Regions from separate parts of the Homo sapiens genome. Here region 2 is linked to region 1. A link means that fine-mapping ties the variant in region 1 to the expression of a gene that starts in the linked region. Tissue or cell type: monocytes. Region 1 holds a variant in brackets; the other region holds the start of a gene. All regions are shown on one strand. Distances are from middle to middle.

Evidence for each region. PIP is the estimated chance that this variant, and not a neighbour inherited with it, causes the effect.
Region 2: BPI starts here. The variant in region 1 is fine-mapped to the expression of BPI in monocytes (Fairfax 2014, PIP 0.92).

The regions. Positions count from the first base shown.
Region 1 is chr20:38,349,964-38,352,720 of GRCh38, reverse strand. LBP (lipopolysaccharide binding protein) reads right to left here. Exons shown (of 15, transcript NM_004139.5): 3 at 1,782-1,910. Among named protein-coding and RNA genes, the nearest start is that of LBP, 4.9 kb to the right of the region's middle. The variant G/A (reference allele first, on the strand shown) is at 1,337.
Region 2 is chr20:38,302,623-38,305,122 of GRCh38, reverse strand. BPI (bactericidal permeability increasing protein) reads right to left here and starts at 967. Exons shown (of 15, transcript NM_001725.3): 1 at 770-967. The coding sequence starts at 899.

The DNA of each region.
Region 1 (2,757 bases):
TGCAGTGGCGTGATCTTGGCTCACCGCAACCTCCGCCTCCCAGGCTACAGCGGTTCTCCTGTCTCATCCTCCTAAGTAGCTGAGATTACAGGCATGCGCCACTACGCCCAGCTAATTTTTGTATTTTTAGTAGAGATGGGGTTTCACCATGTTGACCAAGCTGGTCTTGAACTCCTGACCTCAAATGATCCACCTGCCTCAGCCTCCCAAAGTGCTGGGATTACAGGCATGAGCCACCGTGCTCAGCTGCTGTTTTTTTGTTTGTTTGTTTGTTTTTTAATCCTAAATCTTCAAATCCAGTGTTGCATACTTAGAGTAGATCTCAACTTGTACCAGGCACTTTTCAAGTACTCAGTAAAGGCATGGCTGGTGGCTTCTATTTTAGGCAGTGCAGGTCTGAAGTATAAATATGGTCATATCACCCATATTTGGGCTGTTCCTTCTGCTATGGGCTGCTCTGTGTCACCACCTGCCTCCCAAATTCAGATGTTGAAGCTCTGATCCCCAGTACCTGAGAATGTCACAGTATTGGAGATAGGCCCTTTGAAGAGGTGATTACATTTAAATGAGGCCATTAGGGTGGGCCCTAATCCAATGTGACTAGTGTCTTTATAAAAAGAGATTAGGACATACAGAGAGAAACGGGGTTTCTTTCCTTTCTTTTTTCTTTTTTTTTTTTTTTAGAGATGGAGTCTCGCTCTGTCCCCCAGGCTGGAGTACAGTGGCATGATCTCAGCTCTGTGCAACCTCTGCCTCCAGGGTTCAAACGATTCTTCTGTCTAGCCTCCTGAGTAGTTGAGATTACAGGTACCTGCCACCACACCTGGCTAATTTTTAAATTTTTAATTTATTTTTCATTTTTAGTAGAGACTGATTTTTGCCATGTTGGCCAGGCTGGTCTTGAACTCCTGACCTCAAGTGATCTTCCCGCCTCAGCCTCCCAAAGTGCTGGGATTACAGGGGTGAGCCAACGTGCATGGCCTCAGAAATGGGATTTCTTGAGCACAGAGGAAAGACCACGTGAGGACATTGCCAAAGGGCAGCCATCTGCAAGCCAAAGAGAGTGGCCTCAGAAGAAACCAGGCCTGCCAAAACCTTGACCTTGGCCCTCAGCCTCCAGAACTGTGAGAAAACACATTTCTGCTTAAGCCACCCAGTCTATGCTTGTTATGGCAGCCCTAGCACATGAATACCCCTTCCATCCAAGTGCCTCTGAGGTCAGAGAACTGTTCAAAGTGCCTGAGAGCCAGAGCCCCTGGAAGCAGCCCTTGGCCAATGGCAAGCAGGAGGACGGGGTGACAGCGTGGGGCTGGAGTAACTCAGAGGCGTGTTCTCC[G/A]CTGTCCCTGAGTTCCCCAGCTAGACAGAGCTTCACTTGCCCACCAGGCTGACTTCCTTCCCTTCCCTTCCCTTCCTCACTTCCCCACTCCCCTGTGGGTTTCCTCAGATCGCTTCCAAGATAAAGTATTGCACTGGAATTCTTGCCCTAAAGTCTGCTTCTGTGGGAAGCAAACCAAGGAGACATGATATTACCGCACTTAGCCCTCCCATGACTCCATCAAGGAAGCAGGCCCGTCCCCTTTGGGAGATGAGGAAGTAGAGACTCAGAGACAGAAAGACACTCATCCAAGAGCCAGGACTCAATCCCCAGGCCACCTCCGGGCTTGGACTCCATCTGTCCATCACGTGGCCTTTCTGATAAGCTAGGAACACCTTGGACCTAAGAAGGATGGGGCGAAGGCCAAGGCCAAGAGCTCCAGGGCCTGGGAGCAGAGCCAACTTACAAGAATGACTTGCGCACCTTCCACCTGCCCTGGACCCGGATGGAGGAGTCGGAGATGCTGAGACTCAGGCCCTGGCCAGGGACAGGCCTCAGCGCAGAGTGAAGCAGCTCACAGCTGTGGATGTTCAGGCTGAAGGGAGAGACATGGAAGGAGGTGTCAGCCCTGGGCCTGGACCCAGCCTCACCAGGGACCTTGCGCCTCCCCTCTCCACAGTGGGGACTAGACCAGCAGGATCTGCTCCAGGTAAGCACCTGCTGTGCCCCAGGCATCGATCTTATGACCATGCTAAGCACGTTACTTTCTTCATGCCATATGGGCCACACTGAAGGGGTCAGCAGTGTTCTTGCTCCCTTTCCACAAAGGGGGAAATAGAACCTTGAGGAAGGGATGCAATTGCTCACGGTTTTGCAGTCTGCATCAGAACCCATGAATCTAATGACCCCCGGTGGCATCCTGAGAAGGTCCGTAGACATATCCCTTTGGGTTTGCAGTTCCTGCTAACCCTCCTCTCTCTCAATACATCCAGGTAGGGGGGAAACAGATTCAGGGAAGATGGTGGCAGCCTTAAGATAAGACCCCAAAAAAGTCAGCAAGGTTGTCACAGTGGGAAAAGAACGGTCAAGTTCTATTTTATTTGCCGGGCACATAGTAGGTGCCCAATAGATTTTTGCTGATGGACTGAATAAAAGAAGGCAGGAATGAAGGAAACGCCCAACAGCAGTGAGCAGGGAGGGGTACAATGTGCTACGAGTCTGATTGTCGTTTCTTCACTGCCCATCCCTCAAAAAGCAGTTCACGCTCTTTTAAAGCATCAGCTGCTCAAGTCTAGTAATCTTTTGAAGACTTGGCTCAAATGCCACCTTCTCCTGGAAGCCTTCCCTGACTCCCCCAAGTACAAACTTCAGCTCTAACCGTTGGGCTACTACATTTAAAGTGTAAGGTCTATCTTCTCTTCCAAACTATATCTAGTGGCCAG
Region 2 (2,500 bases), 47 kb after region 1:
CTTGGTCTGATTTCCCTGGGGCTGGGTGTCACCCACTGTTTTGCAGGTCATCTCTCTGCCATCGGGAGGCAGCATCGAGCAACCCCGTGCTGGGGCATCAGGCAAGACCAGAGCTCAAATCCAGGCTGCCCACTTCTCACGTGTAAATGTGGATAGCAGCAGTTTGTCTTACACAAGGCTGAAGTGAGGGTAAAAGAGACTGTGTGTGTAAAGTTCCTAGCTCAATGCCTGGCACAGGTTAGAGCAGGTCTTTCTCTCCTCTGCCTGGGCTGGGGTGAGTGGTCTGGGGGGACCCTCTTTGTGTCACCCAGTGGAGCACTGTGCACAGTATGGCCGCCAGCCCCTGCAGTGGGGAGAGCACGGGGTGGGGAGGTCCTCCCACACTCTCCCTCTGACCCTGCTCAGCCTCCTCAGCAACGAGAGGCAAATGGCAAGGCTGAGAACTGGCTTTGGAAAGAAGAGAAGGGCTTATAAGTCAAAGGTGGAGGTTACATAGAGGGAAGGAGGGGACCATGAGGACCCTCAGGGGTCTGAGCACTGGACTTGGAGTCCTCTAGACCAGTGCTCCAATCCCAGCTCTGCCATCCCAGCCCTGCAATCTTAGGCAACTCGCTTTGCCTCAGTTTCTTCATATATAAAATGGGGGCAAGGGGACCTGCCCTGAGGTGCTATGAGTGTGCCAGGTGCTGGATCTAAAGGGGTGCACACAGTAGATGCTAAGTAAGTGCTCCTCAGGGGTGGAGAGGAGGGAAGGGAGGCATCCAGTTACCGTAGTCCAGGCCCTTCTGGGAGATCCTGACCACGACGCCAGGGTTGACGGCCGCTGTCACGGCGGTGCCTATGGCGACCAGCACCATCAGGGACGCCCATCTCGGCGCGTTGCAAGGGCCCCTGGCCATGTTCTCTCTCATCCTCCAGAGCTGCCAAAACCTCAAGGCCTTGAGGTTGAACCAGGGAGCTATAAAAGAGTCGGCTGGGGAAATGCAAGTCAGTAGAATGTGGAAAGGAGGAAGGAACCTGGTGAGGGTGGGAAAGAGGGAGGGCCGCTGTGGTTTTCCATTGTGGTTAGGGCCCCACAGGCAGGGAGAAGTGCAGCCTGGGAGGCTCGCATGTCCATGTATGCATGCGTGTGTGTGCGCGGGCGTGCGTGTGTGTATGTGTGTGTGTAGATTGGTTCCCCTCCCTAGGCACCCCATTCCCCGCTCTGTGTCCCCACCCAAATGCCCCCATCTACAGACTCCCTTGAAGGTGGGTGGCACAGACATAAGGATTCATATTTTTCTTTCTACTTTTGATTTCTTTTGTATTTTTGATAGTAAAACATTTAAGAAAACAGATGCTTTCGTGTTTTCTTGTCCTGAGAGGCAGTAGTGGTAATGATTCAATGCTCACATTTTAGAGTCTAGTATCTTGGCTATGGTTTTAAATCTTAGCCCTGTCATTCTCTAGTGGTCCGACCTCAGGCAAGCCCTTTAACCTCTCTGAACCTCGGTTTTCTCTTCTGCAGAAGAGAAATACATAGTACTGCTCCCTCTCTGGATTGTGGAGAAGATAAAATGAGCTTAAAACCACGTAAAGCATTTAGCATACTGCCCGTGCAAAATAAATATCCAAATGCTAGCTATTAATGTTATCCTGATTTTAAAAGTAACCCATGTTTATTGGCCAAAATTTGAGAAAGAAACAAGAGAATACAAATTACATATAACTCCCTCTTCCGGAGACAAGCCAAAGTGTATTTTAGAGTATTTCTTTTCTCCCTCTTTTGTTGGTAAGCATAGGTAGAGAGTCCATGTTTGTTTGTTAACCAATATGGGATCACCTGGTCAGTTTGGTAAAGTTCCCTTTTTTCGAGAAACAATAGGTAGCAAATGTTCTTCTCCAGCATTAAATATTTCATTGCTTCCTCATCCCACAGCTTTCTTATCCAAGCTTCTGTTTTTGTACATTTTTACTCCTTCCTTTGGCAGATGTAGAACCTGAGGCTTCACCAGGGGAAGCGTTCTTCCCACGGTCACTCAGCAAGCTGCTAGCAGAGCGAGGATCAAAACACAGCCCTCCAGATGCATCCCACACCAGCCCGAATCCCTCAGCGCCTTGGGAGTTGGGGGGATGTAGACACTCCCCACCGCCAACCCAGCTTTCCAGACAGGTCCCTGTCTGCTCAGCCCCTGCCCCTCCCTCTGCAGCAGCCTCAGGCCTCGGGTGGGCAGGAACCCCACTGGGCAGCCTGCTCCGTCTCCATGGTGATGAGAGGAGGGGCGGGGCTGCAGAAGGGGCAGCCAGCTTCTCTCCCGCTGGGTCCTCATCAGCCCCCTAGTGCCCTGTCTCCCCGACTTTGGACTTTATGAAAGTCTAATGAAGTCCGCTGAGCTCGGAGGACGTGAGACCTTCTGAAGTTTTCTTCTTTTTTTCTTAAAAGTTTTTTTCTTCCTCTCTTCGTTTGGTTCTAAAAGAGTCTCCCCTCCTGCTTCCATCTGCAGCAACTAGAATTCTTCTG